4 linked regions of the Homo sapiens genome follow. The protein of the gene in region 1 purifies or fractionates together with the protein of each later gene. This does not show direct contact. Each region holds a gene or a part of one and is shown on either strand. Other genes may lie near its edges. The genes, in order: OR51E2, HEPHL1, DSG4 and CALML3.

Region 1 (6,919 bases):
AGAAGAACTAGTTCCAAGAATGTTAACAGAATGTATGCTTTATAACTGTGTGAAGTTTTGATGGGTAAATGTGAGTTTATAAGGATGAAAAACAGGGGAAGTGTGCTTTTGCAGTGCCGTTGATAAAATGAGGAGAGACATGAATGAAAGAATAACATAAGCCAGTTTGTTGGATAACTACAAGAGAAGGGGTATATCGAAGTCTTAAATGTGAGGCTAGGTGCTGTGGGAAATGAAGCTAGAGAAAGCACCAGAGGTCAAATCATGAAAATCTTGAATTCCATGGACAGTGTAATGAACTTAAATTTTTGCAGAGCATCAAGAGCCAGACATTTCTAACATTTTATTCACCTTTTATTGACCACTGGAAGCAAGGAGCTTTGCTTTTAATAAATAAATCATTTTCCATCTCTTCTCATTTAATGCCAACAAAATTCCTTTCCCTCTTTAGTATCTTGTTTAGTGCCATTGGTTGCTTTTTTGAAGTCTGCAATACTCAAGTTTTACTCTAACTCAACAATAAAAGCTTCCCACAGTTTTGTATAGATATTTCCAAACAATTCATTTCAACCAGGATATATTGAATAGTTTTCATAATTAGCCTTGTGCTTTGATAGTGAGGGATACAAGACATAAGCCCTGTTTCTCTCTCAATTTCCTGCTGTATCTTTTATAAGGATAAAAATTCCTTTGGAGAACAGTCTGCTTTTGTTTATTATTCCTTCACCTTCAGTAACAATCTGAATTCTTTCCCTAATGACTCTGAAAATCCTCCAAATGATGTCACCCGTGATTTTCTACATGCCAAGTCCAAAAGTTTAATCTCAGATTTGTTTTTCTCTCCCTCATCTCAACTTTCAGCAATGTTTACCTCCTCCTCCTTGAAACTTTCTCCTTCATTAGCTTCAGTGATGGTTATTCTGTGAGGTTTTTTTTTTTCCTGTTTGTTAAACAATGGTTTTGTTCTCTGCCTTATAAATTGTGGGATTCTAGAGGAGTCTGCTTTTCTCCCAAGAAGTACCTCTTCTTTTCTTGCTTTTCATATGCTCTCCTTGAGATATCTTGGTTATTCTCATGGCTTTAAATAGCACTTATATCCAGAAGACTCATAAATCTGCAATCTAATTATGGCATCTCCAGAGTTCTGTATTTTAAAAGTTAGCAGAATCTTTAACGCTGTGGCAAAGTTTCTGGTTTTAAGCGTAAAGGTAGTAATGAGACATGAAAATACAGTGAAGCAATCAAACCTGTAATTTAGAAAAATAATTGACAGCATTTTGGAGAACAAAGCTCCTTGCTGCATGTGGTGAATAAAAAGTAAATAAAATACTGTGGCTACCCCTGAGGGACATCTCTACCCATCATCACTCAGTTACTTCAACTTCTATATGAGACAAATGGAACTCATTCTCTCGTCCCCTCCAAACCTGGCTCTTCCTCCTGCTTCATTTATCAGCAAACGACATCGAACTCTAGTAAATCATTGAATTAAAATTACTACCCACCACACACACACACATGTGTGCACACACATACCCTCCTCTTTCTCTCTCTCATCCCTTACATATAAAGATTAGTTTTTAACTGATTCTACTCCTGAAATGTAAAAGATGAGAACCTCGGGAGGTCTATATAAGAAGGCCAAGCAATTGTTAGTAGTGGGTATTTGCAGCTATTATTTCATTGCATTTTTCTTACATTGAAAAAATCTTAAGTGTTTATATTCAAGACAAGAGGGGGACTAATGAATATCCTTAGAAGGAGGCACTAAATTTCCCCCAAGCTTCTCTTTTGTGCTGCCTTCACTCTAGAATCTTTCCGACCCATCCTCTCCAATCCATATATACTTTCATTTTCTCTCTTGTGAAATAAGCTATATTCTCTCAACTAATTTTTCTGCCCACTCGGATTACAATGATGCTCCTCTTTCATTGCACTATTATAAGCTATAGCTTGTGGCTGTCTTAATCTGCTGAACTAGACCTTATAGTGTCATCAGTATTCTCCATGCTATTGTCAATGGTATGGCTATCATGTGTGACTGACCTGGGTTCAGATTCTTGCTCAAACACTAACTAGTTTTGAGACCATCTACACCATTAATAAAAATATTACTCATAGAAATAGCTACCATTTACTGGACACGTGTTCTGTGAACATTATTGTCCTCAGTGCTTTATAAGCATTATTTTAATTCTTACTATGTCATCATGTGACAAGTATTATTAGATTCACTTTAAATTCATTTTTCTGGTAAAGACACTGAGTATCAGAAGTCTGAAACATATTTGAAATCACATACAACTGGTGAAAGTCAGAGCTGAATTTTTAACTCAGGTCTTTTTAATTCCAAAGCTCGTGCTCTCAAAAACAATTGTTTTACTGAAATCTACAAGTAATATAAACTTTCTGTGACCCAGTTTCCTCATCTATAAGACAGGATATGCGCTGTGTCTAATACCAGTAGCTGGCAGGCAATGCGTTCGAAATTGGTAACTTTTCATTTTTAGTAATAGTTATTGGGCATAGAAATGAGATTCACTGACTGTGATAAATATATCAGCACACTGATTAAACCATTTGACTAAAAACAAGTTATCTAACCTATATCAGGCAGAACGAAATACCCATTCTCTACGTATTTCCTGGGAATAAATAATTCTGAAATTCTACCGTCCTCCTCAGCCCACCATACCAACATCTAATCTAATTCTGCACATTGTGAGGAAATTACTCCCTGTGGGTGAGAAAGTCCAATTCATCTAGAGTCAAGCATTTTCATTGAACAAAACAGTTTTACTTACAGAGCCCATACAGCAGTTCGGCCTGTTCCTTTCAGGCTGACTCAGAAGGCTGAGGAGGCTTTAGATTCCAGGGGAGGGCCGAGCTTGCAAATATGAGGAGACTTATTCCAGCCTGACTGGAGACAGGCACAGAGCTGAAAGGCCAATTCCTGGTGGTGGTGCTAACTCACTGTGTCTTCAGGGTGTGGAGATTCCCAGAAGACTTCTTTTGCCTCATACAGTCCTTTTATATCTGTTCCATTATGCAATTACTTACGGTGGCTATGTGCTTTATGGGCTGATGTAACCTTTTTTTCATGTGTCATTTCACTCAAAAGCTTTTTTATTTAACAGCTTTATTGTTATATCATTCACATACTATAAAATTCACCCATTTATAGTGTATGATTCAATTTTTTTTAGTAAAGTCACAGAACTGTGCAAGAACCATCATCACAATTCAATTTTAGAACATTTTTTATTACCCTTAAAAGGAACCTCATAATCACTAGCAGTCACTCTGAAGGAGATTTTAAAAAACGAAATATTGTAGCAAATTGCTAAATGACATCTCCCATTATGAGTGAGAGTCCAACTCCACCCCTTAACTCCTCAGTATCTATGATTATTCACAGCAGTATGGTTTCATTAGCCCACCTGTGGTTCTTTGCAGCAGCAGTCTTTCTCTTACAGATAAAAAATAATTCATTTACTCATCCATACATATATCCAGTAAATATTTCATAAGAATGTCCCATATTCTAAACATTATACTCAGTGATAGAGTTTTTTTTTTTAAGAATACACCATAATTCTTACTGTTTAGGATTTTAGTGTAGAAGATAGACAGGTTAACCAATAATTACATGTTAACCAATGATAAGGTTATCCTAGAGGCATGAACCAAATGCTTGGTGAATACAGTAGGTAAAAATCTTGGTTCACAACTTACTTGTGTATAAAATACGGTTTCATTTACTTTTTTATAATTTGACCTATTTCGTATTTTGAAGTCCCAACCTACCAGGTTGAAGAGAATTAGTCACAATAATTTGGGGTTCTCTCTACTTATAGTCAAATTTTGAAAATCTTGTATTATACCAAGAAAAATTGCAGGTAGGTGGGTGATTGACTTGGCCAATGATGTCACCTTCTGTCAGTTTACTATCACTCTCATTAGTCTTTAATAAATAGAATGCATAGATTGCTATAAGTTGTCCATCTTTTCTCCTTATGGCCTCTTTAGATCCTTAGATATTCCCACCAATTTGGACCACACTTGGGCATATGGGTCTTTGATTCATTCTCAGTTTCTGTCTCTTACACCCTGCATTTAATCCATTGGTAAATTATGTCAATCTCTTTGAAAAATACAATCAGAAATTGATCACTGTTTATCATCTCCAGAAATGTCACCTTTATTTAAGTCACAATTATCTCTCACTTGGGTAACTTCAGTAGTTTCCTAACCATTCTCCCTGCTTCCGATATTATCTCCTCTCCACTATCAAATCTGTTTCACTACTGAAAATGTCATGGCCTGAGATATTTTCTTCTTCATAATGTAATAAAAACAATAAATAACAAGAACAATAATATTTTATTATGCATTCTACATCCATGATACTAGGCCAAGTGTTTGTGGTAGACAGGATAATGGCCCCTAAAGATACCTATGTCTTAATGCCTGGAACCTGTGAATATGTCACCTTACATTGCAAAGGGACTTTGCAGATGTGATTAAAGTTAAATAACTTGAGATGGCAAGATTAGATGGATTAGCTGGGTGGATCCAATATAGTCACACGGGTCTTTAAAAGTAGAGAACCAGAGAGATGGCAGCATGAGAAGGATTTGATCCACTGTTGCTGGCTTTGAAGATGGCAGAAGGAGGCTACAAGCCAAGGAATGTGGAAAGCCTCCAGAAGGAGAAAAGAAGATAATTGATTTTTCCCTAGCCCCTCCATAAAGAAATGCAGCCTGGTGATTCCTTGATTTTAGCTCAGTGAGATCCATGTCAACTTTTGACTTACACAACTCTACAATAATAAATTCAGTAGAAGAATCCATTATTAGTTTGATTTATGTCTTAAACCATGTTTAAACCAAAAATTAGAGTGTAAGTAACTTACCTAAGTTTCTCAGTTATAAATGGCACAAGTAGTATTCAAAGCCTCGGCTATCTGACACCCTCTCAGTTTTCAAAACTCATTTTCTAAACAGTCTTCACATGACTATCCATTCACCACTACTTTCAATTTGAGTCATCTACACCCAAAAGCCTGCATGCATGCTGATGTGCCAAACTGAATGTTAACAGGTTGTCACTTGTGCATGCTTATTCCTTGCACATAAAGGTATTTTATTGTTGTGTTTCCGCACAGGAAACTTCTTGAGACCTTTGAAAACACTTTCTCTACCAAGTTGGGCAAATTGTAGGGCTGTGACTCTTTTCCCATTAGTCTCAGAAACTATTTGGGAATAGTCACATATTTTTATTCTTATGGTTGAAAGAATGTTACTCTTATAAGAAAAATAAAGTTACTATAGTGGTACCATGTAAATTCTGTGCCAGAGCTTAGTACATGAAAATGAAACTAGTGTGTGTACTGGTTAAAGCACCAATACACACACTGGCACACTACGTCAAAATATGGCTCTTCTCACTGCCCTATTCTCATGCCAGCCTAGCAGAACAGTAGCTGGTAATTTAACTAAACTTTCTGAAAATTTGAGTTCAATGTTCCTCCATGAAATCATACAGCAACACATCTTATTAATACATTAATATTAACTCCATTGAGTCCAGGAAACATATCATAGTCTGTGATGTCATTTGACTTCATATTAATGTTTCTGAAACTTGGTAATCCAAACAGGAAGTACCAAATTGGACATAGGAAAACTCTGCACTAGGAACTTGAAGTAAGTCTTATTTATTGACTGTCAACATTTACTACGGTAAACAGTAAAATATTCTTGGCTATCAAATCAGCAAATGTTTTTTAAAACACATAATACATAGTGTTGTGTTGCTGTGTTACAGTGGACTAAGCATTGTTTTACAATGTTTGCATGAACTTTCTGGAAGCATATTTTCCAGTATATTGTTGTCTTAAAATGTCCATAATATTCCATTTCTAAGAATTTATTGAAAGGAAGATATCAGAGATGCAGGCCATATTTTATGTACAGGAAAATTTATTGCCCCATTATTTACAGTGGTAAAAAATATAGATAAAAATTCTCAATGATACAGAATATATAAAGCATTTATATCGAGTCCTGGGATGTTATGCAACCTTTAAAATTTGTGCATATACCAGCTCAAGTGGATGGTCATGCTTGATCAGGAAATAGAAAAACAAGTTTCAGGGCTAAGACTAGCACAAGGAGCAAACAGTTTAAGATATAAAAGAAACAGGGTTTGATACAGGAGCAAGAGGCCAGAGGCAAAACAGGTAATCCAGGGTTAATGCATTGAAATTGTAGAAATAAACTTAAAAGAGAACAAACAATAACAACAGCAACGAAAACGGGTTGCTGTGTGTTACTGTTTGAATATGTCTCCCATGTTGGAAATTTAATTCCCAAAGTCATATCTTGATTAGATATGAAGACTTTGGGAGATAAGTTGGATCAGATAAGGTCATCATGATGGGACTGGTGGATTTATAAGAAGAAAAAGAGATCTGGGCTGACACAAATGCCCTTGCCCTTTTGCCATGTGATGCCCTCCACCATGTAATGGCAGCACAAAACCTCTCTCCAGAGGCTGGCACCATGCTTTTGAATTTCCTAGCCTCCAGAACTGTGAGCTAAATATACTTCTTTCCTTCACAAATTACCTAGTATTTGGTATTCTGTTATAGCAAGAGGAAATAGATTAAGACACTAAGTCAAAAACCATTTTGTTTATACTACTGTTCAGAAAAATTATTAGAACTCCATATGGCCTACTAGCCCTCCATGGTCTGATGAAAGCCTCACTCACCTCTTTTCCTGGATCCAGCCATGTTGGATTTAGCAGTTTTCCTACCCCGTTGATATGGCTAACACTGACCATTCAATTTTGGTGTATATAGAAATGTCACTCCTCCTTACCTCTCCCTGTGAACTTCTAGCTATTCCTAATA
Region 2 (7,466 bases), about 89 Mb from region 1:
CACTTCTCAAGTGACTCTAGGGATTACATTTCAACTCCCTTCTTACACAAATTAAGGAAAGTGATATTCAGAGAGATTATATGACATGTTCAAGATTACACAGCAAGTTGGGCAGAGCAAGCATTAGAAGTTAGGTCTCTGGATTTCTATTTCAGGTTCTTTCCATTCATGGTGGAATTCTGAGCACCTGGCTCTCCTGGTCCTTTAAATATCAGACATTTGCCCAAGTGTGAATATCCAAAACAACAGACTGTCCTCAGAAAGGCAGCCTATTCACCCTCCAGGAGGCTGAGAGAGGGGCATGATTACATCATCCACGATGGCTCCTTCCTGCTCCTGGGGAAATGGCACAACACAGAGTACACACACTGAACTCCACTTATGTCCCAGTCACAGCATCTTCACATACACCCAGGATGGATATCTTGTGGTCCACAAGCAATGTCAGCCACCTACGACAGCCCTACCTTTTTAGGAACTTGTCTGAGCCACCTACCACAACTACTAGCACTGATGGGATCACTGATAAAAACCAGTATTCTGATGGGATCACTGATAAAAGCCAACGTCCACTGCATACTCACCTGGATTTCCCTTCCAAGAGGTAGCAGTCTGTCTGACACAAACTCTGTCCCTTCGCATACCAGAAAGAAATGTTTGGGGACCTTGGCGTTCTAGGTATGACACCTTAGCATGCCAGCTGCTTCTAAGAACAAACGCACTATCATATGGGACCATGCATTTTGAAACCATCTCACTCAAATCTGATGCCAAACCAACTGTTTTCATCATGCCTATTTTCTTTTTCACCATAGCAATTTTTATATGTTTTATTGTACTTTCATCAAAGCACCATCTTCTGGTTGAAATGATCAACAGAGACCCCAACTTCTTCCAGCACCCCACTTTGTGAAAACAGCATTGTAGTACTTGAGTATTTATGATTCTTTGAGGTTTTGAATTAACCCAGATAACTTGTTTGGTCACTGACCACCAGTGATCCCTTTCAATATGCTTCTAGGAAGAGTGACAAAAGAGACTAAACATGCCTTTGGCAAAAATTAGGACTTTCTAGAAAGTTCTTATTACTGTGATCCTTGGCTTCCCTCAAAGTTGTTTTAATTCACTGGAGAAGGATCACCTTTACCAAGAAACAGATTGTGTGGTGAAAAGAAATATGGGCTGTGGAACCAAAGCAATGAGTTTGGTGCTACCACTTACTTATAAACTCCGGCAAGTATTTAACCTCAGAGCCTTGGTTCCTGGTTCATAAAATGAGAATAATAATATCTGCAAGCAGTAATGAATTGAAAAATCCCTCATAGAATTTTTGGGTCAGAATAAATGCCCATACACAGCTATAGTGACGTGGGCATTTTAGGAAGAAGAATTTCTGTGGGTGTTAATCTTATGGAAAGGCAATCCAGTATCACATTTAGCTTAAACGCTATATTCATTACACTCAGTGTACACACTTTCAACATTCTTATCCCCAGTAGCTGCTCACATTGACTGTTTCCTACTGAGCCCTCTCTGAGAATAGCAGAGCTCTATTTGTAGAGAAGGCTCCTGGCATTTTTGGTACCCTTTCAATCCCATAGCTATTCATCACAGTAAAGACACTACCACCAATGGTCAGCAGATGTGGGATTGAAAGCAATCAAGAGTTTCCTTTGGAAATAGCCCTGCAGACATTACATTTCCAGGTACAAAGCTTAAGGAAAAGTCTGCCTTGGCAGCTTGTCTGGCACAGGCTTCATCTTTGGTAAACAAAACATGACTATACCACCTTTGTTTTGTTAGAAAACTTGGAAGCTGTATTTCCAAGCCAACTGGATCTTTGGTCTTTCCTCAAAGACAAGGGGCCCTGGCTCTTAAAGACTTGCTGGTAGGCCCTGTGCTGTTCCTGAATTTTATCAACTAAACTCATCTTTAGGAAATGGAACATGGATGCAGAATGCAACTGGTTCTGCCTGTCAGAAAAGAAGCAAGCATTCAAATATCCAACAGAGGTTGCCAAAACATCTGAAAAGATGTTCTAATAACCACAAAGTTGAAAATAGCATGACATCTTCTGGAGTCAGGAGGTGACTTCAGAGGGAGATCCATGAAACAAATTAGATGGTTAAGATACTAGGCCCTGGAGGGGGCAGGGAGAAAGGGTTATTTTCTGCCCCAAATTAAAAATCAGGAACATAGAACACCGTGGCGCCATCTCACCTAGCTATGCTATAGGTTCTGGGATAAGATATTGCCCTCAGCAAGAATGACTTGGAGCTGGAATAAACTTTTTACCAGTGAAAGCGCTAATTCTAAGTAGACTCAAGGAAACCCTGAAAATAGCAGGCAAATCTCCTGTGACTTCCCCCTCTTTTAAACGTTGAAAAACATGACTTAGCATACTTATCTCCCATTATGATGTTTCATTCCAGAAATACAAACTAAGAAAACACTGTGTTTTAACCATAAGGAATTCTTGAAATTTCTCAAATCTTCATCCCAAGTGTTGTCATTTAAAAACAAACAAACAAACAGAATCCCCCAGAAGTTACTAGTAGTACCTGGTGGAAATTGTCAAACACCTGGTTGTGTATATGTCCCTTCACAGGCAAGGCTATTAATAGGTGGCTCAACAAATACATGGAGCTATGAATATCTCTTCCAGATTACACACCCATCCATACTAGGGCTCTTCAAGCAAAAAACAAAACACCTTCTCTTGGTCTAGATCAACTCACCCCCATTGTAAGTACCCAAGAAATACAACCTTCCCCACACAAAGTCAAAAAGAGGCCAAACCTGGGAGTCAATGAGGACCCTAAGTTCACTCACTTGTCTTCTGTGAAACTTTTCCCAGTAATAACATTCTTCCCTTGGGGTACATAGTTCCAGTATTCTTCCACAATCCCAATGTAGTACGTTCTGGTAACTGTGCCAACCAGCCCAGACAGACCCAGGAATGTGAGGAGAAAGATGCAGCCAGCTGGCTGCTTCCGAGGCATTTGTGGATGTAACTCAAGCAGGCAGGCAGCCTGCACAGGGGACAAATCTGTTGGTCCCTCCCCCTCACTCAGCTCCTCCTCCTCAGGTAGCTTGGGTTTGGGGAAGAGGCAAAGGCTGAGGCCTTGCGTAAGCAAAGCAAGCTCGATGGGGGCGTTGCTTTGACAACAAAACTTTTGCCAGCCATCCGAGAAATGTGTGACTGGCTCATTTATGTATTGCCCAAGCCAACAGGCCTGTTTCTATACGTTTCGGTACCATGCTCTGACATCAGTCATTTGTCAGCCAGGATGACAGTGTGACTACTTGAGCCGATGGCTTTCCCCCACCCCTTCTTCTTCTTTTCTTCTCCACACCTCTTACATTAAAATCTGAAAAGTGAGCTGGCCTGAGTGGAGCATCAGGAAACACTCCAGGCACTAAAGAAGGCCTCCTCTCTGTCGGGAGGGCAGAGGAAGTGACATAATCACCATCCAGCTTGTTTTATGAGGCTATGTGAAACCACAAACTAACATCATAAAGTTCATCACAACAACATAAAACCCCACTAATCCTCCACTGGCTCGTGTACCATCTCCCCCATATTCTCTCAAATCCTTCCAGCAAAAATGAGAAGGTTGACTGCTCAGTTCAGCCAAAATGTTCGCGGCCACCACCTCCACACAGGGAGCCGCCTTTCTTAGGATGAATGAAAATGATGATGGGGAAGTACCCTTCAGACACATGGAGACAAAATTCAGTAACAGGTCTTTGGGTGGAAAAGGCTGGGCCATTCTTCTGTGTCTTCTAATCTGTGTCCCAGAATCTCGGTATTGAAAGAGACCTTGATCAACCTTGGAAAAGAGTTACTCTTATCCCCATGCACAGTTACTCTTGAGGGAGCAGCCATGGAATGAAGGAAACAGCCTCCTGGCCTTTGAAGTTGGTCAGACCTGGGTTTGAATGTGAGTTCCCACCACTTTCCAATTTAGTGGCATGGAGGAATCACTTAACATCATTGAGCTGGAGACTATAGAAGAAGGATTGAGGGATTCTTAAGGAACTTTTTAAAAGATGATGTCTGCAAAGTGCTTACCCCAGCCCCTAGCATAGGGTAGGTACTAAGTAAGTGTTAAAGTCCTTCCTGCCCATTCATGCCCTCTAAGAGAGACTGTATCAACCTGTGTATCCACAGACTTGTGTTTCCCCGCAGTCTTCAACTTTCTTTCCACTATTCTTTGCCAAAGTCCTATCTGCCATGCCTTCCACCAGTCTCAAGTAAGAGAATTCTTTTTCTTTAAATGGTAGCTACCCTATAAATGTCCCATAGCACAGTTTGTATTAGCATTCATCTTAATTAATAAAAGGCCAGGCACGGTGGCTCAGGTCTGTAATCCCAGCAATTTGGGAGGCCAAGGCAGTCAGATCACCTGTGGTCACGAGTTTGAGACCAGCCTGGCCAACATGGTGAAACCCTGTCTGTACTAAAAATACAAAAATTAGCCGGGCGTAGTGGCAGGCGCCTGTAATCCCAGTTACTTGGGAGGCTTAGGCAGAAGAATCGCTTGAACCTGGGAGGTGGAGGTTGCAGTGAGCCAAGATTGTGCCACTGCACTCCAGCCTGGGCAACAAGAGCAAGATTCCTTCTCAAAATAAGTAAATAAATAAATAAATAAATAATAAAATACATACTGAGTATCCTGTTTCATAGCCAGGCTCTTTACAACTTTGATTTACTGATTTGTTTGTTGTATCAAGGACACTGGTAGAATAATTGCCACAGCACATTTCCATTTAGCTAAAATCTCCTCTTCAACATGAGTTTGGGAGCTTCGTATGAGTCTGGCACTTCAACGGACACTATAGAGGAGGACTTACGTGGTAGGCCTGAGGTTGGCCTCAGAAGAAGTAGGGAGTTCAAAGTATGGGGAATCTGGCCAGGCGCAGTGGCTAATGCCTATAATCTCAGCACTTTGGGAGGCCGAGGTGGGTGGATCACCTGAGGTCAGGAGTTCGAGACCAGCCTGCCGAATATGGTGAAACCCTGTCTCTACTAAAAATACAAAAATAACCCGGGCATGTTGGTGCATGCCTGTAGTCCCAGCTACTAGGGAGGCTGGGGCAGGAGAATCTCTTGAACCCTGGAGGCAAAGGTTGCAGTGAGCCAAGATCTCACAACTGCACTCTAGCCTGGATGATAGAGCGAGACTCTGTCTCACAAAAAAAAAAAAAAAAAAAAAAAAAAAAAAAAAAAAGGTTGTGGAATTTGGAAATGTCCCAAACCAAATATCTTGTTGCTTACATCCCAGAGAAGCTGGCTATTTTGGGCGTATCAAAGACGTTATTAGGACATATTCCCCCCTTTTTGGACAGGAGAAAAAAAAAGGTATAAGTGATACAGCTCAAAAAGACAAAAGAGTTAACTTTCTTACCCAAGATACTGAACGCATATAATTAAAACCCAGGAGAAGGCATTACCTAACTTCTGATTCAAAAACTAGATCTGCAGAATAGATCAGGTCAAGAAATCTGAGTCACTATAGCAGATGAAGTCAACGCATTTAATCTATTTGTAGCAGAGAACTTGCTTACAGAGGGCCAAAAGTGGGAAAGAATTTATTAAAAACAATGAAATAGGGTTCTGGAAAGCTCTCTTAAATTCTTCCTTATCCTAGGACAATAAAGGTGTTACTCAAAGAGCATTGGAATGCCATAGGAGCTAAAGAAAATAAACTGGTATGAGACAATGCAGTGTTCCTGTGACACTCATTTCAGAAAAGCGACAGTTCCACGCCCAATGTGTTTGACAGTGTCTAAATTTTATTAGGAAACCTGTGAATTATCATATCAACACTCATTTTTAAAAACCCACAGTTACATACAAGATATGTTTGACAATGTTTAAAATTTGATTAAGTAACCTGTGTAAGTAATAATGTTAGCAAATACTTCCAACTCCATTGAACACTAGTCAGACATTTTTTTAAAGTCAAGAAACCCATTTATCAAGCATTTATTATGTGAGATGGCCAGTTCTAAATATTCACTCCATTCCTCAAAACATTCACCAGGTTTCAGATAAGGTAAATTTGACATCATGCATCAATAGCAGAGAAAGATAATGCTGGGTTAAATCACATTTTATTGAAATTATGGTACAGGCACACCTTGAAGATATTGCAGGTGTGGTTCCAGACCACCATGATAAAGTGAATATCAAAATAAAGCGAATCACATGGATTTTTTGGTTTTCCAGTGCGTATAAAACTTATGCTTAGGCCATGTACAGTGGCTCACACCTGTAATCCCAGCACTTTGGGAGGCCAAGGTGAGAGGATCACTTGAGGCCAGAAGTTTGAGACCAGCCTGGGCAACATGGCAAAACTTGTCACCATAAAAAATACAAAAAAATTAGCCAAGCATGGTGGGGTGCACCTATAGTCCCCGCTACTCAGGAGGCTGAGGTGGGGGGATCATTTGAGCCCAAGAGGTCGAGGCTGTAGTATGTTAAGATCATGCCACTGCACTCCAGCCTCACTGACAGAAGGAGACCCTATCTAAAAAAAAAAAAAAGTTATGTTTACACAATATTACAGTCTATAAGTGTGTGTGCAATTGCATTATGTCTAAAAAATGTACACACCTTAATTTAAAAATACCTTATTGTTTAAAAATGCTAACAATCACCTGAGTCTTCAGTGAGTCAGTCTTTTTGCTGTGGAGGGTCTTGCCTCAATGTGGATGGCTGCTGACTAATCAGGATGGTGGTCACTGAAGGTTGAGGTGGCTGTGGCAACTTCTTAAAATAAGAACAATAGTTTGACACATCATTTGGTTTCCTTTCATGAAAGATTACTCTATAACCCATGATGCTGTTTAATAGTATTTTACCAATAAAAGAACTTCTTTCAAAATTGGAATAAATTTTCCCAACCCTGCTCCTGCTTTATCAACTAAGTTTATGTAATATGCTGAATCCTTTGTTGTCATTTCTACAATATTCACAGCATCTTCACCAGTAAATTCCATTTCAAGAAACCACTTGCTTTGTTCATCCATAAGAAGCAACACCTTATTCATGTAAATTTTATTATGAGATTGCAACAATTCAGTCACATCTTCAGGCTCCACTTCTAATTGTAGTTCACTTGCTGCTTCCACCACATCTGCAGTTACTTCCTCCATTGAAGTCTTGAACCTCTCAAAGTCATCCATGAGGGTTTGAATCAGCTTCTTCCAAACTCCTGTCAATGTTGATATTTTGACCTTCTCTCATGAATCACAAATATTCTTAACAGCATTTAGAATGGTGAATTATTTCCAGAAGGTTTTCAATTTACTTTGCCCAGATTCATCAGAGGAATCACTATCTATGGCACCTATAGCCTCAAGAAAGGTATTTCTCAAGTAATAAGATTGAAATTCAGTTACTCCTTGATCTATGACATACGGAATGGATGTTGTGTTAGCAGACATGAAAACAACAT
Region 3 (7,029 bases), on another chromosome or scaffold:
GTTATATTCTGGGAAAATGTGTCTAATATCATTGTGAGAATCACTCATGATCTTTGCATAGCTTTGAAACCTCACAGATTATTTCAAAAAAGAAATCCTCACCAAAAGTCAGCTGTTATTTTTTATGCCTTGAAATGATTACATTTTAATTAGTGCTCATCCCTGAAAACAGCAACAATACAGTTTGACAAATTTACTTCTCTTTAATTTTAGAACCCAGCTTTTGATCCCCATGAAACCTAAATATTGCAAGGGCAACCTAAAATGTATGAAGTATTCTTCCTCTGAGGATCTATATGTTTAAAAAAACTCTATGGGGAAAGGAGGGCCCTTTTTGGGAAATTTTTGTTTGGTGATCTTTCCACTTCTGTGACCAGTCTTAGTTTAGGCACTCACCCAGAGCCCAGAGGCTAATTCTCTGTTCTAGTCTCTTCTACTTGCTTCCTACCGCAGGGTCACCTGCGCTCATCAGCCCTCATCAACTCTTCTGTGCCATTGTACTGAAGCCCAGAATGCCTGGTGTGTCATGAACATGCCTCCATGCTGGCTCCCAGACTCCCTTTTGCCTCTCTGCTTCCTAGGTGTGCTATGCTCTTCCATATCTTGCTCCCTTTTGTTTGTGTGTGTGGTTTTTTTTTGTGTGTGTGTGTTTGATTACCTTTCAAATTTCCTTAGACATCATCCTCCTTTAAAAGAAATCCTCAGCAGGGTGCAGTGGCTCATGCCTGTAATCCCAGCACTTTGGGAGCCCAAGGCAGGTGGACCACGAGGTCAGGAGTTCAAGACCATCCTGGCTATCATGGTGAAACCCCGTCTCTACTAAAAGTACAAAAATTAGCCAGTCGTGGTGGTGGGCGCCTGTAGTCCCAGCTACTCGGGAGGCTGAGGCAGGAGAATCATTTGAACCTGGGAGGCAGAAGTTGCAGTGAGCCGAGGTTGCGCCACTGCACTCCAGCCTGGGCAATAGAGCAAGATTCCATCTCAAAAAAAAGAAAAAGAAAAAAAGAAAAAAAAAATCCTCAGCTTTTCAGGCTCACCTCAAAATCCACTTTTCCAAAAGATTGTCCTAACTTTTCCACATGGACTTAATTGCTTCTGCCTCTCTACTCTTAAAGCATTTTAAGGAAATTTCCATGATGGGATTTGTTTTGTGCTTTTAGGTAGTATATGTAGTGATTTGCATGTGTTTCCCATTTTTAGGACTGTCACTCACCCTAGGCTTTCTTAGTTATCATTGTGGATTAAGCGCATATATTTGTCAGTCCCATTGTTTATTTCTAAGGCACTCAAAAATTGCTAGAGATACCAAAAAGAAATGGCTCCATGAACCTAACCATCCCAGCGAGCCTCGTAACAGCCCTATTTTGAAGAACTATTGAAAAGAAGGATTTAATTGAGTACTTACAAATCAGTAGCAGGATGCCCAGAACCATCATGCCAATCCCTGCTGGTCCAAGACCAACATTTGAAACTCCAGCTTGGTCTTCAGTGACAGGCCCATACGTGTCACCAGTTATGTCCTCTGTGTAGATGCCCGCGGCACCAGAGTCCAGGCACATGTGGTTGTCATCGCAATCACAGGCATATAACTGCACCATTTGTGCCAATTCACATGCTCTGTTATAGCTGTCCTTCACCAGGATTGGGATTTCATAAAATCCTGGAGATAAAACCTGCTTAGCCGTAAGGATTGCCGAGGTAGCTGAAATGGAAGAGAGGAAACAGAAAATAAATGGAAATTCCTTGGTGGGCTAGGGGGGTGGTTAACTCTCCCTAATACCAAATATTGACTTAAAACACTAGATTTTTCATGCTTTCTTAGTCATAAAGCACCTTGTACTTTTTTTTAACATTTATTTAATTTATTATTATTATTATTATTCTTGTTATTTTTGAGACAGAGTCTCATTCCTATTGCCCAGGCTGGAGTGCAGTGGCACGAACATGACTCACTGCAGCCTTGGATTCCTAGGTTTAAGTGATTCTCCCACCTCAGTCTCCTGAGAAGCTGGGACTACAGGTGTGTGGCACCATGCCTGGCTAATATATATACATTTAGTAGAGACAGGGTTTTGCCATATTGCCCAGGGTGGTCTTGAACTCCTGGGCTCCAGCAATCCACCTGCCTTGGCCTCTTAAAGTGCTTGGATTACAAGCATGAGCCATTCTGCCTGGCCTTTTTTACTTTTCTTTCTTTCTTTTTTTTTTTAACATTTATAACTAATTTTTAAATAAGTATTGCTTACTGCTGGATTGCTACTTCTATAATGCAGGCAAGGACCTTGCTGCATCTTTCCAGAGCAACAGTAATTGGCATATAATATACATTCAATAAATATTTGCCCAATGAATAAATAATATTGAGCTGAAAGAAAATATTAGAAGTCTTCTATTTAGGATTACAGTTTACACAATACCCTCCTTAAGACTGTTTATATGTATCTTACTCAAAATTGTTGCCCTTTCATTTAAAATTGTTCACATTCTCCTAATTCTTTGTGCTATCATTGCCTATGAATTTTCATAAAACATATTGTCTAAAATATTCATTGGAATTTATTTATTAATACAAGGAGTGTTGAGATGATTAAATTTACAGCTAAACCATGAATAGTAACTGATTGATCCATAGCACACAATATTTTTTATTATGATGGTTTATTATCCTCAGTTAGCTAGATGGCAAGCCAGCTATGTCCACCAAAATCTAACCTGTGCACAAGGTAAAAATGAGATAAGGCAATGCCACAGCACATTAAGTGAAATTCATTCTGTTCTAAAACACCAGCAAGCATTGAAACAGGTCTCTAGGAATATCATCTCCAGTGTGGTTATATTTTTTATTGGCAAACCTGTAATAGCTATAATATTATACCTCCATGCAGAACATTTTTTCTTACATGTGTAATCATAATATCTAGGATCCGAATGAGGAAAAAAGTGGTTAGCAATTATTATTGTTTATGAATGGGCTATTGAGCTTTATAGGAGATGGTGAATTCAGAGTTGACTTGATATTAATGGAATTGCTTTAACATGATTAACTTTAAAAAATATTAAAGTGGTTTTGTTGAAAAGAGCTAAAGGTTTGATGGTAAAAACAAATTGCCTAATTTCTTACTTTATTGGTGGTATTTTCCCCACCTTATTTTAGGGTTTCTCCATTCTGTAAATAGAGGGGCTTGGTGACCTTAAAGAGGTGGGAAGTATTTCCTCTCACCCTGGGCTCTGTAGTCTGATGGCCACCGACTAGCCCATGAAATTTTCCCTGTAGCCCCAAATGAATATGAGATTGGGGAGCTATCTTAGCCCATATGAGATCCTCTCATAGCATTTTCTTTTTTATTATGCACTTAACGTTTTAGGAAAAAGAACGCAAGGTAGATAAAATGTTATGTTATCTGAAATTTATTCTTAATTTTTATCGATGTCAGCCATTCAATTGTATGTAGTTATAGTCAAGATACATACATATACAACTTCGTGATCTGTTTTTCACTTTACTTTCTTTGGTTTATGCATTCTTTTGTATCTACATACTTTGCATAATTCTAATTTTAATGGCTGTATATTAACACATCTTAATAATATGTACTCTGTTTAATCATTCCTCTAATACTGAGCAATTTGGATTTAAATTTTTACCCTTAAAAATAAGTCTGAACTCATAGTTACTGTAAAAAACAATTTAATTGATTTTATGTGCTCCTAAGTGAGTAGTAAATGTTTAAATGTATCTATGGGATATATGAGTTTCAGAGACATTTATGTGATTTGTCTGAATTTATTCAGAATAGGGAATTGTGACATTCTTAATTTATGAGTTTGTTAAGGGTTCTGTTTATTTTAAACTGAATAAATATTGGTTCAACGTTTTACCTACTCAAAATGATGGGTAAACTGGTATTTATCCACTACTATTTGTAAATTAAATATTAATGAAACATTTTGACTCATTTCATTTCAGTTCAAAATTTTATCAAATATCCTCTGTGTACATGAAATATTTTTTTCATTTAATGTTAATATGGCAAGAACTGTGGAAACAGAAGTAGAATGTTTTATTAAGTGACTTGCCACATTTTTTGGTAATTGTTTTGCTTTTGGACTTAAAGTCCAAAAAACAAGCTTACGTTTCACTTACCATTTGTTGATCTGACATCCCACATGTCAGCTATTCCTGGTGGCTCATCAACAACACAGAAAGTAAACGGAGACCCATAAGAATGTTCATTAACAGAGATAAGGACTGATGGAGAGTCAATGCAGATGGTTCTTCTTTCAGGAAAAATGTTTGGACAATAATCATTGATATCAGGAACCTCAATACATATGGTTCCTGTAGCTGTTTTTCCAGAGCCATCTGAAAGAGTAAGGGTCATTGGTGTTGAGGTAAATGGTGTTAGGGAGAAAACTCTTTCTCATATCCCCTGATGATGCCATGGAACTTGTAGGAAACATATACGTGACTTGGGAGGCTTGACAGGTTCCTGCCCGCTTCAGTGACCCAAAGTCACTCTTCCCTTTGTGTGCTACCTTCCAGCCACACTGCTTCTTTTGAGTTCTTTAAACAAGTTTCTTTTTTACTCTGGACTCTGGCACATTCTTTTCACCCTTCCTAAAATGTTTTCCACCCTCATTTCATTTTGCTAATTCTGACACATCCTAAGGCGCAAAATCAAATGTTCTTCCTCCGAGAAGGTTTACTGGTTTCTAATCTCACCCTGTTCCCATAAATTAGACCCCCAGGTCAGTTATGAACCTCCATTCAGGATGCTCACTGAGTCCTGTGTTTGTAGAAATAACCACAGCTGAAATAAATACTTGTTTGTGTTTTTCTTGTGTGCTCACTGTTTATTTTAATTGCATCTGTTACATGCTATTTCTTTCTGAAATGGCATTTCTGAAAACAAATATAAGTCTATTAGATTTTTCCCTAATCCACTTGAAACAAGTTTTTGGATAGTATAATTAATCAGAAAGGGCCAAAGACTAAAGATTAGGAGTCCAGGAGCTTTTTAGTCCACTTTTCTACTCTATGTTCTGTTACAGCGAATACGGAATTTTTTTTGCTTCTTTTTAACTTGAAAAGAATCTTAGCTTTCTCGCTTTTAAACTAGAACGTTGTCGTCTCTGGGGTACCTTACTAGGTCCTTTTCTGAGAAAGCAATAAATTCCTTTTACAGATGTTTTCTGTGTGCCTAAGTAGTAGTCATTGAGGTAACTGAATGAGAATAAACTGAGAGCCTACCTATAGTCTATATGATTTTGTATAATATGTTTATATACCCTATTCAGCATTGGACTTGTTTTTACTAGATGAAGGATGTCGATTTCACTTAGCTTCTCATTCGAGAGGCATCAGATTATTCCACAGATTGTTTTATTTGTCATTCTTTGATCTTTGGTAGCTCTTCTATTACCTTGTGATTGGCAACCAAAGCTCAAGCTATTGCTTATAGTGTTTGCTTCCCAGTAAAGTTTGCTCTGCATAGAGGTCTGTCTCTTCACCTGATGATGGTGTGTGCTGAAGCAAACTTATTCCAACCATTCAGATAGCTCTGTGCCAGTGCAGACACTCTGCTTAGGTGAATAAACAATCAGCTTTGTTTCTGGGTTTCTCTTGGTACATTTTGACAGCACTTTCTCTCTCTTTATTTGCTTGGAATGACTAATTATTTATTCTAGCATTTGAAGATTTTTCACATATGACCAATATGCAAACATAGGGTGCAATCAACATGGTTAGAATCCATTTTCAAATTAGAGCTTCCAGAATACTGATAATGAATAAGACAATGTTATTTATAAAACTGACCCAGGCGTTAAAATTTACCCGCCACAGGATGAAGCCCAGGATGTACAGATGATAGTTGGTTTGGTTTTATCATGGTTTCTTTTTGAATTTTATGCTGCTTCTTTATCTTTATTTTTGTTTTGATACTGGAAAGGTCAGCTATAAACTCAATGCAAACCTACAGTATCTGTCTTACATTAGGCATGTATCTTGGACGCCTGTCTTTCCCCTTCCTTCGTGGTTCCTGACCTTTGTCTCTTGTTTGGTTCTACAGCAGCTGGTTTCCTAGGCACTGCTTCATAGAATCATTAACTATTGATAAATAAACAAATCCTGTTGCTGCTCACCAAGAGGACTGCTTAACAGATTTACCCATGTGAGAGGTGGCTCGCTTACAAGTTAAGTCAGTGCATCTGTATTTATGACTTTTAATATGGATCTTATATTTGGAATAATCTGTGCTTTCTTGGTCCATAGCATCTTACTATGGAAATATGTCTAATCAAGCAACACTCACACAAGCTTCTCACTGTAGTTCAGTTTTAATGGATCTAAAATAATTGTATTCTTGGAGACATTGCTTTCCCACAAGGTGATCCCCAAATGAACTTTGTAGAGCACGTAGCCCTTACTTTAAGTAAACATTCCCAACATACCCTACAAGTGAGATTAGCCATACTCAAGAGACAAAGTCATAATCAGAAGATGAATTATATTTTAACTTTTATGCTGTAAGCCATATACAACTCAGTTTTGGAAGTAGATGAAATAAACTATGGCTTCAGTGTAAATTATGATTTTAATTGACTTCAATTCTTGATTTAAGGTGTTTAGGGCTTTCCATAAGTCTTGCATACACCATTAAAAATGTCTGAGTCACTCAAATATCAGCATTAGAATAACATAATATTTAATATAATAGTACTAGTTTTCTTAAAATACTGAAAATAAATTTTCTTACCATCTATAGCCAGGATCTCTGCTGTGTATATCCCATTGATAATATATTTTGACTTCTTATCAAATTCTCTAGAAAATTGTATCTCACCAGTTCTTGAATCAATTTTTAACCAGCTGCCTGCATCATGCCCTATGATATATCTGTTTTTAAATAAAAAAGTTCGTTATCATGCTTTTATGAAAGTTAGTACTTTTAAATCATGTAACAGCTACAATGTGGCAAACTTTAATATTGTGTTTTTATGTTTTATAGTGATGATTGCCTTGGTTTA
Region 4 (6,520 bases), on another chromosome or scaffold:
ATGGTAACAGTAGCTGCCATTATTAAGCACCTACTACATGCCAGGTGTGTTAAGAATGTTGTTCTGGCTCCTCACAAGTGCTGGAGAGAGGCGCTACCGTAGTTACCATGATGGAGGCACAGGTTGGTGTCAGACCTGTAGCTGAGTGGTCAGGGCACAGACCTGACTGAAATCCCAGGTCTGCCTCTTACCCACTGGTGGGACCCAGGGCTGCTTTCTAAAGCCCTCTGTGTCTCCACTTCCTCGTTTGTAAGATGAGGAAGGTAATAATAGTGGCTGCCCCATAGGGAGGTGCCAATTGTCTATGCAGGCCAAGTGCTTGATGGTGCCCTGAGCCCAAGCAGGTGGCATGAGGGTCCTGTCATCCTGGAGGTCCCAGTGGTGCAGTGATGATGGCAAGGCCGGGGCTGGGGCCCAGCTCTTTGTTTTACAAAGGAGGAAACACTGGGTGTTGGTGGGCGGGGGTGGGGTGTCAGGGAGAGAGGATACATCCACCATGGCCTTTTCTGATGAGCTCCGTCTAGTGCCCATCCCGCAAAACATACCTCCCTTTAGAATTGAAGGGATCTCTGGCAGGGCCCCTTCGACCTTCTCTAGGTGTTGCCAGCAGCTTGCAGGGCTAGTGCAGGACTAACGGCTCTGAATTGCTCTTACACTGTGTGTGCCCAACTGCCCCCCAACCCCTCACCATCTCTAGTGCCTGGCACTTCACAACCAGGGAGCACTTGCCAGGGGGAATCAAAGCAATCAGCAGGTCCCTTCTCAACGTAATGGACTCAGGTCTTTCAAGTCCTGATGGACTTTTAACCACTCTTTGCTGCCAGCGTATCCATTTGATTGAGAATATTCAATATTTCCCTCATCCAGACTTGTCTCTCTCTGAGGCACCTTTCCCGCTCCCCCGTATAGGAATTCATTGCATTTTCAAAAAGCACAAAAATGGAGATTCCTGCCTCGTTTCAACCCTGAATTTAACAAGGATCATTTCCATGGAAACCAAAAAAAAAAAGGAAATGAAATAAGGACGAATATCTCATTTATTTCCCTGCAGCTCTCATCCCCTGCTCATCCAAGCCTCCCTCCTTCCAGATGAATAGGAACAGGTTACAGCTGACCCAGTTTCACTCCCAGCTTCAGAAGATGAATCACGGTGGGTTGGCGGACAAGGAATGGGGCAAGCTGGGGCAGCGCGGAAGGCAGTGCTGTTTTCAGGAGGCCTGACCTCTGTGGCCAGAGTCCCCGTCAGCACCGCTTACTGCAGGCCAAGATGCCTCCCACCCTCCAGAATCCGACCGCGGAGGGAGCTTCCAGTCCAGGAGCCTGCGGGAATCCTGGCGGGGGCTGAGGGCTGCAGCCCCCCTGGCCTGGGCATTGGGTGCCTCTTAGGGATCTTGCCTGGGTGCCCTAAGGGGTCACCCGGTGTCCGTCCTGGAGGGCCGCAGAGTCAGCGCAACCTGCCCTGGTGCTCGGTCCTAAGGTCAGCTCTGCTTCTCCCGAGTGGGGAGGGCGTCACGGTTTGCCTGCAGTGGGAGCGTTCCGTGTCATTCAGACGAGCAGGTGGGAAGGTCGGCAGGAGTGCAGAGAAGAGACGCGGGAAGCGGGATGCAGAGAGGTGGGCTGAATCAACCAGGCGCAGGAGGAAGCCACAGTGCCCAGGGGAGGCAGGGGGATGGGGGAGGAGGCGGGAGGCCCCGGGTTCTTGCCCTGTGGGCCGCGTGGGCGCCCAGGAGCATGGTGGGCGCCGGCCTCACTTGGACACCAGCACACGGACAAACTCCTCGTAGTTCACCTGTCCGTCTCCGTCCGTGTCCGCGGCCCGGATCATCTCGTCCACCTCCTCGTCACTCAGCTTCTCCCCCAGCCGGGTCATGACGTGTCGCAGCTCGGCGGCGCTGACGAAGCCGTTGCCGTCCTTGTCGAACACGCGGAAGGCCTCGCGGATCTCCTCCTCGTTGTCCGTGTCCTTCATCTTCCTGGCCATCATGCCCAGGAACTCGGGGAAGTCCACGGTGCCGTTGCCGTCCCGGTCGATCTCACTCATCATGTCCCGCAGCTCGGCCTCCGTGGGGTTCTGGCCCAGGGACCGCATGACCGTGCCCAGCTCGCGGGTGGTGATGCAGCCGTCCCCATCCTTGTCAAACAGGGAGAAGGCCTCCTTGAATTCTGTGACCTGCTCCTCAGTCAGCTGGTCGGCCATGCCAGGGGTGGGGGCGTGGGTGGCAGAAGAGGCCACTGTGGGGTCTCCCTCCCAGTGCCGCAGCCCGGCTGCTGTCCCAGCTCTGGGGTGGCAGGTGGAGATCCGGGCGGCCGGCGGGCTGTCTCGCCCTGGCTTGAGACGCTGGAGCTTAAGAAGCAGCAGAGTCCTCCCCCATCATTGGCAGACGCCCCTGCCCTGCGGTTGCCCGGGCCTGTCCTGTTTAGACAGGAGTCCAGGGCCTGCGAATCGAGCTGACGCCAGCACCTCTGTGCCTGCTTGCACCTGGACCCAGCAGAGCCACGGGGGCCCCGAATCACACCTGCAGTCAGGGCGTGGTGGGTGAGCTTTGGAGCAATCCACGCTGGACTCCTTCCTCCTGAATTTCCCTTTCTCTCCTCCCTCCCCGTCTCCCACCTGCCGCCTGTCTCCCACTCAATAAACTCCAGTGCCCTTTCTTCCCTTGAGTGGAGGGCTTTTTGCAGGATGAAAGGCAGATGAAAGAAACGTCCTTGCCTTTGGTTTCTAAAGCCTCATATAGAACAGGAGGGTTTTTGGAGGAGGAAGGTTTTCCCTTCAGGTAGAAGCAGCGAGTTTTCTTATCTTCAGAATGGACATGAATAGGGAGGGGTTTCCTCCAACCCATTCACTCATCCACCCTTTCACAGATATTTGAGTGCCTACTAGGTGCAGTGTCACTCTGGAAGCTGGGAACACAGTGGGACCGGCAAGCCACCCCCAGTCCTCGTGAGGTTAACTAGCAAGACAGCTAGTTTGCAGGTCAACTGATCGAGGAATGCAAACAAGGTGACTAGGGATTATTGATAAATGCTGATGGACATACAAGGTGGTGATGGACAGGACCCCGAGGTCACCTTTCAGCCTGGTCAAGGACAGACCTCCTGCTGAGAAGCAGCTGTCTAGGCCGGAGTGGCCATGGCAGGGCCAAGGGCTGGAAGATGATCAGTGGGGCTGCAGGCCTGTGAGGGAGGGGACAAGGAGGAGAGACAAAGGAGACCTTGAAGGGCTCAGCCAGGAAGTCCCACTATCATTCTCTGGTCCACATTGCCCCAGGAGCTCCGGGCAGCATGGAGCTGGGGCTGTGGAGCGGCCTCTCCCAGAGGAGACCCGCTTAGGGGGATAGTGGGGTGTTCACAGCACAGACTCGGCTCCCACTCCCAGGGGGCCTGGAGACATGACCCCCAGAGAGGCAGGAGCAGGCGCTTCACCTGTGGGAATCCAAGAAATCCACACTGGGGGAGAAACATGGAGCCCACTCTATTTTTTGCTGGGTGTGTGGGGGTGGGGTAGAGACCGGAAAGGGAAAGAAAGTGTCCTTTTGAGGACCTGGACTTGCCGAGGAGAGACTATGGCAGGAGAAGGGCTCGGATATTCATTTTTTTTCTCTCTGATTTTCCTTCCCTTCTCTATTCAAGTAGAGGCAAGTGTGTCCTTCTGGTCTGGAGGGGGTCTGTGGTAGGGGGAAAATTGAAGCCACCTGCAAGACACCTTCCTTCCTACCTGAGGGCTCCCACAAAGCCTGTGTCCTGAGGGTTTGGGCAGGAGGAAGCAGGAAGGTTGAAGAATCCCTCCATCCCCATGGAATCTTTTCCTTAGAAGAGAAGTTTGTGGACCCCAGAGCAGCAGGGCTCAGGGATGTGGTGGCCACAGGCAGCCTTGGCAAAGAGCCCTGGGGCCCAGGGGTGGCGTGGAGGGAACGAGGTGATGGGCATCTTGGAAGCCACGTGTGTGGGTGACACTTTGGTGACCAGATCCCACCCTCCCCTCCTTTCTCACCCCAGAATATTCGGCCTTGCCTGAGACCTCACACCCCAACAGCTCTAGGGGAGTGGGGAGATGGGCTGGCCAGGACTCCCTGGGGTAGGAGAGGGGCTGATAATAAAGTTTAGATTTAGAGAGAAAAATGAGGCAGCATCTCCATTTGCAGGCTGGGAGCATGCCCTGGGCCCAGGTTACAGCTCTGTCCACAGGGGGCTGCGCAAGAAAGAGTGTGTGCTTTGCTCCTGGGAGCCCCGCCCTTCCTCGAATATTCTGGAGATCTCTTTTGTGGTGGGGAGACCCAGCAAAGGCTGCACACACAGCTTGCTCAAGGTCACCCCATGAAAAGTTCAGCTGGGGATCAAGGTCCCTTTTTTATTTTGGGGTTTTTTGGGGGCTAATTCTGGGACATGGGGACCTTCTGTCACCTTCTGAGAAGGGCTCTTGATTGTACACTGGTGCCTGATGCCTGAGTGTTAGAATTCATATCCCAAACGCACTTTAAAAATATTTAAATATCTCCGCTCTAGATCACCCGAATACCCAAAAATAGCAGGTTAGTAACAAATACCTGAAATTTCCTCCACACCATGAAATAATACACAGCCTTTAAAATGAGGATGAGGATATAACAATGGAAAGGTTTCCATGGAAAATTTTTAAAAAGCAGATAGAAAACTGTATATGTGATATGATTTCATGTATTAAACATTTATATATGTTTATTTATATACATTCACAGAAGAAACGCCTAGATAATCATGTACCAAACTCTTAATAGTGGATACTTTGGATAATAGGATTATAAGTGCTTTTAATTTTCTTATAAATGTAGTATCTTTGCTCATTTAAAAATGTTTTATATTTGCCATATATCATTTCTATTATTAGGGGAAATGACTGAAGATTCAAAAACCATCCCTGATAAAAAATATTCCATATCTTACTGAACTCCCAATATTCTTTCTCTTTCTCTGAGGTTAGGTAATGTGGAGGGCCTGGTAATATTGTCAGCTTTATATCTCTCAGAGATATGAGACTATGGTGAGCATAGCTATTATTATGTATAGAAAAGCAGAATAATTAATAGCCAATAACCACACCCCCTATTTGACTGCCAGAGTGACCATCTAGTGGAAAAGATGCTATGAAGCATTTTTCTTCTACTTTCCCTGCCTAGGGGCTGGAGAGACTTCTTCATGAAGGAATACAGGGACAGTCACAGGAGACAGGAGCACCAAGGGATTCGGACATGTGGCTGACACAGTCTTCTGGAGAGCCCCGGATGGCATCAGGGGGAAACCTGGCCTGAGACAGTGCCCTGATGGACAAGGACAGGAATACGGTCATACCTCCTGCCCACTTGACCAACGACCAGGATGAGAAGCCAACAGGTAACTGCTGGTTTCTGGGTCATGGCTCTGTGGCTCAAACATTAGCTTTTACCTAAATGTCCTTCTCAAAAAGGCACACTGAAAGAGGACTCAGTGCCAGGTGCAGTGGCTCACACCCATAATCCTACCACTTTGGGAGGCCGAGGCAGGCCTGAACTTGAGGTCAGGAGTTCGAGACCAGCCTGGCTGACATGGTGAAACCTCTACTAAAGGTCTCTACTAAAAGTACAAAAATTGGCCAGGCATGGTGGGTGGTGCCTGTAATCCCAGCTACAGCTACTTGGGAGGCTGAGGCAGAAGAATCACTTGAACCAGGGAGGGAGAGGTTGCAGTGAGCCAAGATCGTGCCACTGCACTCCAGCCTGGGAGACAGAGCAAGACCCTGTCTCAAAAAAAAAGAGGACTCAGAATTTTAAACAGCGTTGCTTAGTGCAAAGTGACTCACAGAGGACCAGGACCGCCTTACGATGGGCCATACTGTTGCAACTCGCTGGTTGGGAAACTGTGACAGAGGGAATGTTTTTTATTTTCTGTTTAACTCTCTCCCTGCAGCCTCTCACCCCAATATAGCAACTCCTTTCCCTACAGAATAGATATTATTTTGGTCTCAGGATACATTTAAACATTTAAAAATTATTGGGGACTCCAAAGAGCTTGTGTTTATGTGGGATATATATATATATATATATATACTGTGTTTGCAACTAAAACCAAGAAATATTTAAATATTTAAGTATATTTTTATATATTTATAACTTAATAGAAATAAACCCATTACTTGTTCACATAAAACCATATTTTTCAGCAATCCCATTACTGGGTACATACCCAAAGAAATATAAATTGCTCTATTATAAAGACACATGCACGCGTATGTTCATTGCAGCACTGTTCATAATAACAAAGTCATAGAATTAACCAAATGCCCATCAATGATAGACTGATAAAGAAAGTGTGGTACGTATACACCATGGAATACTATGCAGCCATAAGAAAGAACGAGATCATGTCCTTTGCAGGGACAGAGATGGAGCTGGAGTCCATTATTCTTTCAAACTAATGCAGGAACCAGATACTGCGTGTTCTCACTTATAAGTGGGAGTTAAATGATGAGAACACATGAACACAACACACACTGGGGCTTACTGGAGGG

The links.
Region 2: the proteins of OR51E2 (region 1) and HEPHL1 purify together in Homo sapiens (affinity purification with mass spectrometry; 3 studies listed by BioGRID and IntAct, with this or other methods). This does not show direct contact.
Region 3: the proteins of OR51E2 (region 1) and DSG4 purify together in Homo sapiens (affinity purification with mass spectrometry; 3 studies listed by BioGRID and IntAct, with this or other methods). This does not show direct contact.
Region 4: the proteins of OR51E2 (region 1) and CALML3 purify together in Homo sapiens (affinity purification with mass spectrometry; 2 studies listed by BioGRID and IntAct, with this or other methods). This does not show direct contact.

The regions. Positions count from the first base shown.
Region 1 is NC_000011.10:4,694,849-4,701,767, forward strand, and holds the start of OR51E2 (olfactory receptor 51E2), read right to left. Parts: upstream 3,006-6,919; 5' UTR 2,814-3,005; coding exon of another isoform or gene 2,805-2,813; intron 1-2,804. Other genes in the region: olfactory receptor OR51C1, read right to left, coding at 2,805-2,813. UniProt on the Homo sapiens protein: Olfactory receptor. Activated by the odorant, beta-ionone, a synthetic terpenoid. The activity of this receptor is probably mediated by G-proteins leading to the elevation of intracellular Ca(2+), cAMP and activation of the protein kinases PKA and MAPK3/MAPK1.
Region 2 is NC_000011.10:94,016,905-94,024,370, reverse strand, and holds the start of HEPHL1 (ferroxidase HEPHL1 precursor), read right to left. Parts: upstream 3,018-7,466; 5' UTR 3,003-3,017; coding exon 2,833-3,002; intron 1-2,832. UniProt on the Homo sapiens protein: Is a copper-binding glycoprotein with ferroxidase activity. It oxidizes Fe(2+) to Fe(3+) without releasing radical oxygen species. May be involved in the regulation of intracellular iron content.
Region 3 is NC_000018.10:31,400,750-31,407,778, reverse strand, and holds part of DSG4 (desmoglein-4 isoform 2 preproprotein), read right to left. Parts: intron 6,899-7,029; coding exon 6,759-6,898; intron 4,364-6,758; coding exon 4,145-4,363; intron 1,703-4,144; coding exon 1,406-1,702; intron 1-1,405.
Region 4 is NC_000010.11:5,520,763-5,527,282, reverse strand, and holds CALML3 (calmodulin-like protein 3), read right to left. Parts: upstream 2,323-6,520; 5' UTR 2,198-2,322; coding exon 1,748-2,197; 3' UTR 512-1,747; downstream 1-511. UniProt on the Homo sapiens protein: May function as a specific light chain of unconventional myosin-10 (MYO10), also enhances MYO10 translation, possibly by acting as a chaperone for the emerging MYO10 heavy chain protein.